Linked DNA regions of Homo sapiens. The protein of the gene in region 1 purifies or fractionates together with the protein of each later gene. This does not show direct contact. Each region holds a gene or a part of one and is shown in the gene's direction. Other genes may lie near its edges.

Region 1 (3,500 bases):
TATGAATACTGCTGTGGGCATTTCTGTGTTCAAGGTTCACCCATATTGTAGCTTGTATTAGTACTCATTCCTTTTCATTGCTGAATAATATTCCATACGTGTGTATAACACAGTATTTGTCCATTCTTTAGTTGGTAAACATATTGTTTTCACTTTTTAGCTATTATGAATACTGCTATGGGCATTTCTGTACAAGGTTTTGGTGTGGACATATGTTTTCATTTCTCTTGGGCAAATAGAAGTAGAATTGGCCGTGTCATATGATAACTCTGTGTTTAACCTTTCTAGGAACTGCCGAACTTTTCTGTTATAAAATAGCTCTACAGTTCTAGATTTTAAAGTAGACTTTTTTTATGTTTTAAAGTTCAAATCATTTCACAGAATTTTAAACTTAGATTATTGCAGCTAAATATTGACACACACAGTAACATCTATGTCGTATCATTTATTATAGTGCTTCTCTTTTACTGATAGGTGTGGTTTTATTTTAGCCAACAGGAGCAACGTGCTATCTTTATGGAATTTCTTCATGAAGCTAAGTGATAAGATTTTTAAGTAGTATTTTATAATAAGGCCTTTATGGCATAAAGATAAGTAGATTGTTCTCTACTTCAGATATAAGCCAAAGAAATACAAGATAAAATTGGAAGGAGGAAGGGGAGAGCTGTAAAGGAGGTATATCTTACAGAGCTTCATCTTCCCAGTTTTTATATTTTGTTTTTCTGAGAAAACATGTTTTATCTTTGCAGGGAAAAAAATGAAGAATGAAATTGCTGCCGTTGTCTTCTTTTTCACAAGGCTAGTTCGAAAACATGATAAGTTGAAAAAAGAGGCAGTTGAGAGGTTTGCTGAGAAATTGACCCTAATACTTCAAGAAAAATATAAAAATCACTGGTATCCAGAAAAACCATCGAAAGGACAGGCCTACAGGTAAAGGATTAGATTGGATTAAGCAGAGGCTGATCAACCCCTGAGGTGGGTTCAAGGCCGGATGATTGAAGGGTGTGCAGACCATGCCTACAGGTGTTTCATCTGCAAAATATAGAACTCTGGGGTGTTTGTATATTTTCTCCTTACTCATTTTAAAACAAGTATTTGTTGGCGGAGTGGTGGAGTCCCACTGCCTGGACACAGGAGGCCAATGCTATGGGGTCAAAGGAGTTAGTCTTTTGTGGTTATAGCCTGGCTCCTAACAGTGCATTTCTGTTTATCACAAATACTTAGGGATTTTCACAATTCTAGAGGACCCCTAATAACACATTAATGGGCATGGTAGGAGTTGAAAGAAGTGAATCTTGCATCTAAAAGTAAATTACATGTTATATGTTCTTTGAAAAAAAAAAAAGTATGGAAAAAGGGAACTAAGATTATCAGACACCTGATATGTCGTTAATACAAGAATAATCTCATTTATATATTTGTGGTAGAAGTCAGTGTAACTATTTTCTAGATGAATGTGACTCACCTGTGATCCACGACTAGTAAATAATGGCTCTGGGATTTGCTTTTCTGGGAGTTTTTTTTTTTTGTGGTATTGTTTTTGCTCTGTCACCCAGTCTAGAGTGCAGTGGTATAACCATAGCTCACTGCAGCCTCAAACTCCTGGGCTCAAGCAATCCTACTGCCTCAGACTCCAAAGTAGCTAGGATTATAGACATGTGCCAACACACCAGGCTAATTTAAAAACAAATTTTTTTTTGTATAGATGGGATCTTGCTGTGTTACCCAGGTGAGTTTCAAACTCCTGGCCTCACGCGATCTTCTCCCTTTGCCTCCCAGAATGTGAGGATTACAGGCGTGAGCCACCATGCCTGGCCAAGGTTCTGGGATTTGAACTCAGGTCTACATGACCCCATGTTTTCATGGGCTTTCTGCACACCACAGTGTTACCACTGTTTTGGCACTGAGAACGAAGGTAATTCTCACTTGGAGCTGTCTTTTGTACTCTGCTGTATAAGGTACATTTACAGCTTAAAGTAAAGAAGAGCAGACTCCTATAAAACATGCCCTGGCATGCTCACTGTAGTATTTATGTGACTGCTCAGGAACCTCAGTTGAGAATGTTCTGCTAAACTCAGCTGCCAAACATTGTCCCATTTTGTGGATGTGGCCACGAGAAATAAAAGTGGAACAGTGACTATAGTGATAACTACAGAAATACTCTTTTATTTGTGTATATTGATGTCCCCAAAGTTTCCTACACAAATCAACACTTTGTGCTTTGATGTCAGAAGGACTTCCTTTCTGCCACTGGGCTCTTGCAAGTACAGCACTATTCAAGGAGTCTAAAAAGGAGGTAAACATATTATTTGCTAATTTCTCATGTACTGAAAGTCAAGTGAGCTTGTGTTCTATTGACAAGAAGAGAATCAAAATAGTTTATTTTCCTTTTCATTTTTAATCCAAAGAGGTTTCCAGTAAATTGGAAAATGAATTAAAATAGAAATGTGCACGCTAACACAGGCTCAAGTCATTTTTTATCTTATCTCTTGATTATCTTAATTTTTTTTTTGCATATTTTCATTTCCAATAGAGTGAACAGCTTTCGTTAAGTTAGAACTGTTGAGGCTTTTTACTCTGATTTAACTGACATTGGATGAAGGCTTTTTGGAAGTGCCAAGCCACCATACTATTACTGAAAAAGGAGGCACTGTCAAGTAAATATTTAAAGGTCAGACAGTGTACAATTTCATTTCCATTAATTCTAAAAACTTGAGAAAAAAACTGAAACGATTAAATTGGCATGTGATCAGAAGTATCATTACTGAGTCATTTTAAAGCTGTATTTGAAGTAGAAAAAATAGTGGGTTGTTACTATTATAAAAATGAATAGAATATAAGATTAACCAAGTTAGTAGAGACTTCAGTCTGTAGAATAGGTGGAGTGTTCTTTCTCTTACAAAATGTTTGTAAGTTGAAATTGTTTTTCTGCAATATAAATAAGATACTTGTAGAGAGCAATTTGGCAATATTATCAAGATCTATAAAAATATTCATACCTTTTGAACAGTAAGTCTCCCAAGAATCTATTCTAGAAGTATAATTAGAAATGCAGACGAACATGTATGAATATGGATGTCTCTTACACTTTGTAATTGCAAAAATGGAAAGAACTAAACTGTCAACATTAAGTAAATGATAGAATATTTTTATGCAACTTTTAAAATTTTGTTTTTGAAGAGTAGTTAATGGATAAGTAGTATGTAGAGTGAAAAAAAATAGTACAAAACATGTAAGGTATGCAGATTTTGTTGAAGCATAGTCTCTGTTTAAGCATCTATATTTATATATAATTTGTAAGCTTAGAGCCTGTATCACCTTAATTGTAGATAAGAAAAACACATACATCTAAGATATATCTTTTTATCCTTAACTGCTTTTGGTCCCAGAGCACATGGGATCTTTCAAATTACCCTATACAATATTAGAATCTATAGCATAAGACCATGTTTTTAAAAGGACTAAGCAGTATTTTACATACTAGAAAATAATTTTTCTCA
Region 2 (3,500 bases), on another chromosome or scaffold:
CTTGGTATAGATTTCTATTTTTATTGTGCTGTGGTCTGAGAATGTGGCTGGTATGATTTTTGTTTTTGTTGGTTTTAAAAATTTTTAATTTGCTGAGAATTGTCTTATGGCTGACTGTGTGGTCAGTAGAGTATGTGTTATCTGCAGATGAGAAGAATGTATAGTCTGTTGTTTTTGGGTGGATTGTTGTGTAGATGTCTGTTAGCTCCACTTGATCAAATGCTGAGTTCAGGTCCCAAATATCTTTGTTAGTTTTCTGCCTCGAGGATCTGTCTAATACTGTCAGTGGGGTATTGAAATCTCCCACTATTATTGTATAGTTATCTAAGTTTCTTCATAGGTCTCTGAAAACTGGTTTTATGAATCCGGGTGCTCCTGTGTTGGGTGCATATATATTTAGGATAGTTAAGTCTTCTTGTTGACTCTTTACCATTTGTAATGTCCTTCTTTGCCTTTTTTCATCATTGTTGGTTTAATGTCTATTTTGTCTGAAATTAAAATAGTAATCCCTGCTTTTTTTTGTTCTTTGTTTGCTTTGTAGGTTTTTCTCCATCCATTTACTTTGAGTCTATGGGTGTCATTGTATGTGATGTATGTGAGATGGGACTCTTGAAGACAGCATACCACCGGGTCTTGCTTCTTTATCCAATTTGCCGTTGGATACCTTTTAATTTTGGCATTTAGCCCATTTACACTTAAGATTAATATTGATATGTGCAGATTTGATCCTGGCATCATGTTGTTAGCTAGTTATTATGTACACTTGATCACGTGGTTGCTTTATAGTGTCAGTGGCCTATGTCTTTAAGTGTGTTTTTGTGGTGGCCAGTAATAGTCTTTTGTTTCCATATTTAGCATTCCCTTAAGGACCTCTTGTAAGGCAGGCCTGATGGTAATGAATTCCCTTAGCATTTGCTTGTCTAAAAAAAAGATCTTATTTCTCCTTTGCTTATGAAGCTTAGTTTGGCTGGATATGAAATTCTTGGTTGGAGTTTCTTTTCTTTAAGAATGCTGAATCTAGGCCCCCAATCTCTTTTGACTTGCAAGATTTCTGCTGAAAGGTCGCTGTTAGCTTGATGGAGCATCTGATGACTATGTGTCTTGGGGATGGTCCTTTTGTATAGTTCTTGCAGAGGTTCTCTGAATTTCCTGAATTTGAATGTTGTCCTTTCTAGTGATGTTTGGGAAATTTTCATGGACAGTATTATGTTTTTCAGCTCTATCATATTAGTTTGGTTCTTTCTTAAAATGGCCATTTCATCTTTCAGCTCCTGTATTGTTTTATTATAATCCTTAAATTCCTTGGATTCAGTTTCAACTTTCTCATGGATCTCAAATGATCTTAATTCCTATCCACATTCTGAATTCTATATCTGCCATTTTAGCCATTTCAGCCTGGTTAAGAATCCTTGCTGGGGAACTAGTGTTGTTTGGAGGAAAAAAGACACTCTGGCTTTGTGGGTTGCCAGAGTTCTTGTGCTGGTTCTTTCTCCTGTGTGTGGGCTAATGTTTCTTTAACTGTGGTGTGATTTGAGTATAGTCAGTTGACCTCATTTCTGGACATTGTCAGAGTGCTGGAGCTTTGTGCGGGGTCTTTATTTGTAGCTGAATTCTTGTTCTTCGTTTCACAGAGGGATATATTAGGTAAGTATTTTTGGTGTCAAAATTTGGGCTGTGATCCAGTAGATGGTGCTTAAGTGTAATGGCCATTAGGTAGGCTCTTGCTCAGCCACATGACTCCTCTATTTCCTTGTGTTTGCGGCCATGCTCCCTCTTGGTGCTCTGAGGGTGTGGGCTCCTCTCCCACTTGAGTGCTGGCTGCAGAGCTTGGCTTGACACTCTTGGGCTTCACATGCAGCCTTCAGATGAGCTCAGGCTTTGTGTTCCCTCCCCAGCTTGGGAGCAGCAGGGGCAGGGACCTTGGCAGTGGCAATTGCAGAGGGCCTTTCACTTGTCTTTTGGGTCTCCACTCCAGAGAAATGCAGAACTACTATCATTTGGAGCATTCATCCTGGGGTGGAGTGGCTGCATTGTGGGCCCGAGCCAGGGAGCCCTGCCTGGTGATGAATGGGGAGGGGGAGAAGGGAGCTCACAGGGAAGACAGACTAGCCTCTTCTTAGGTTGGCTGTGGCATGATGGAGGTATGAGTACAGCACTCAGGGTCTTTGTTCCTTCCCCAATCCAAGGGCAGCAAAGGCAGTACCACTGCAGTGGCAGTCTCAGAGGGCATTTCATTTGCCTCTGGGAGCTCCACCCCAGAGCAACACAGAGCCACTGACAATGGGTATGTTCAGCCACGAGGTAGGGCAGCTGTTCTGTGGGCCCAAGCCAGGGGCCCTGCTTGGTGAAGACCAGGGGGTTGGAGGCTCACAGAGATGAGAGACTTGGCTCTATTCTGTATGGCAACTGTGGCATGTTGGAGGTGCAAGTAAATCCCTCAGGCTCTTTATTCCTTCCCCAGTCTTAGGGCAGCAAGGACAGAGCTGCTGCAATGGCAGTGGCAGAGGGGCTCTCGGTTCTTTATTTTTGATAAAGTCCAAGTTATTTTTTTTCTTTTGTCAATTGTGTTTTTTGATGTTGTATCTAATAATTCTTTGCCCAATCCAATATCATGAAGGTTTTCCTATGTTTCTAAAAGTTTTATACTTTTACGTCTTTCGTTTATGACTCTGATTCATTCTGTGTTATTTTGTGTATGGTGTAAGGTGAAGGTCTTCATTAATCTTTTTGCATATGGATATCCAACTGTACTATCATCATTTGTTGAAAAACTAACCTTTTCCTGTTGAATTGACTTGGAACCTTTTTTGAAAACCAATTGACCATAAATATAAGGGTTTATATCCGACCTCTCAATTGTGTTCCATTAGTTTATATTTCTATTCTTATGCCAGTCCCTACTGTCTTGACTATTGTGGCATTGTAATATGTATTTAAATTGAGAAAGGTGAATCCTAAAATTTTGTTCTTCTTTTTCAACATTGTTTTGGGTATTCTGGGTTCTTTCCATTTCCATATAAATATTAGGATCATCTTGTCACTCTTTCTTTCTTTCTTTCTTTCTTTCTTTCTTTCTTTCTTTCATTCTTTCTTTTCTTTTCTTCTTTCTTTTCTTTCTTTCTTTCGACAGGGTCTTGCTCTGTTGCTCAGGCTGGAGTGCAGTGACACAGTTGCAGCTCATTGCATCCTCAACCTCCCAGGCTCAAACGATCCTCCCACCTCAGTCTCCTGAGTGCCTGGGACTACAGATGTGCATCACTATGCCTGGCTATTTTAACAATATTTTTGTAGAGATGTGGTCTCCCTATTTTGCCCAGGCTGGTCTCAAACTCTTGGGCTTAAGCTATCCTCCTGCCTTGGCCTCCCAAAGTACTGGGATTATAGGCATGAACCATCATGCCCAGCCTCTGCTTTGATTTTGGTAGCGATTGCACTGAATCTATACATCAGTTTGGGGAGAACTGCCAACTAACAGTATTGGATTTTTCAATCCATGAACT

What was found. Proteins that work in one complex are often made in the same cells at the same time.
Region 2: the proteins of BTG3 (region 1) and TMLHE purify together in Homo sapiens (affinity purification with mass spectrometry; one large-scale study listed by BioGRID and IntAct). This does not show direct contact.

The regions. Positions count from the first base shown.
Region 1 is NC_000021.9:17,606,402-17,609,901, reverse strand, and holds part of BTG3 (protein BTG3), read left to right. Parts: intron 1-749; coding exon of another isoform or gene 750-757; coding exon 758-930; intron 931-3,500. UniProt on the Homo sapiens protein: Overexpression impairs serum-induced cell cycle progression from the G0/G1 to S phase.
Region 2 is NC_000023.11:155,602,953-155,606,452, reverse strand, and holds part of TMLHE (trimethyllysine dioxygenase, mitochondrial isoform 1 precursor), read left to right. Parts: intron 1-3,500. UniProt on the Homo sapiens protein: Converts trimethyllysine (TML) into hydroxytrimethyllysine (HTML).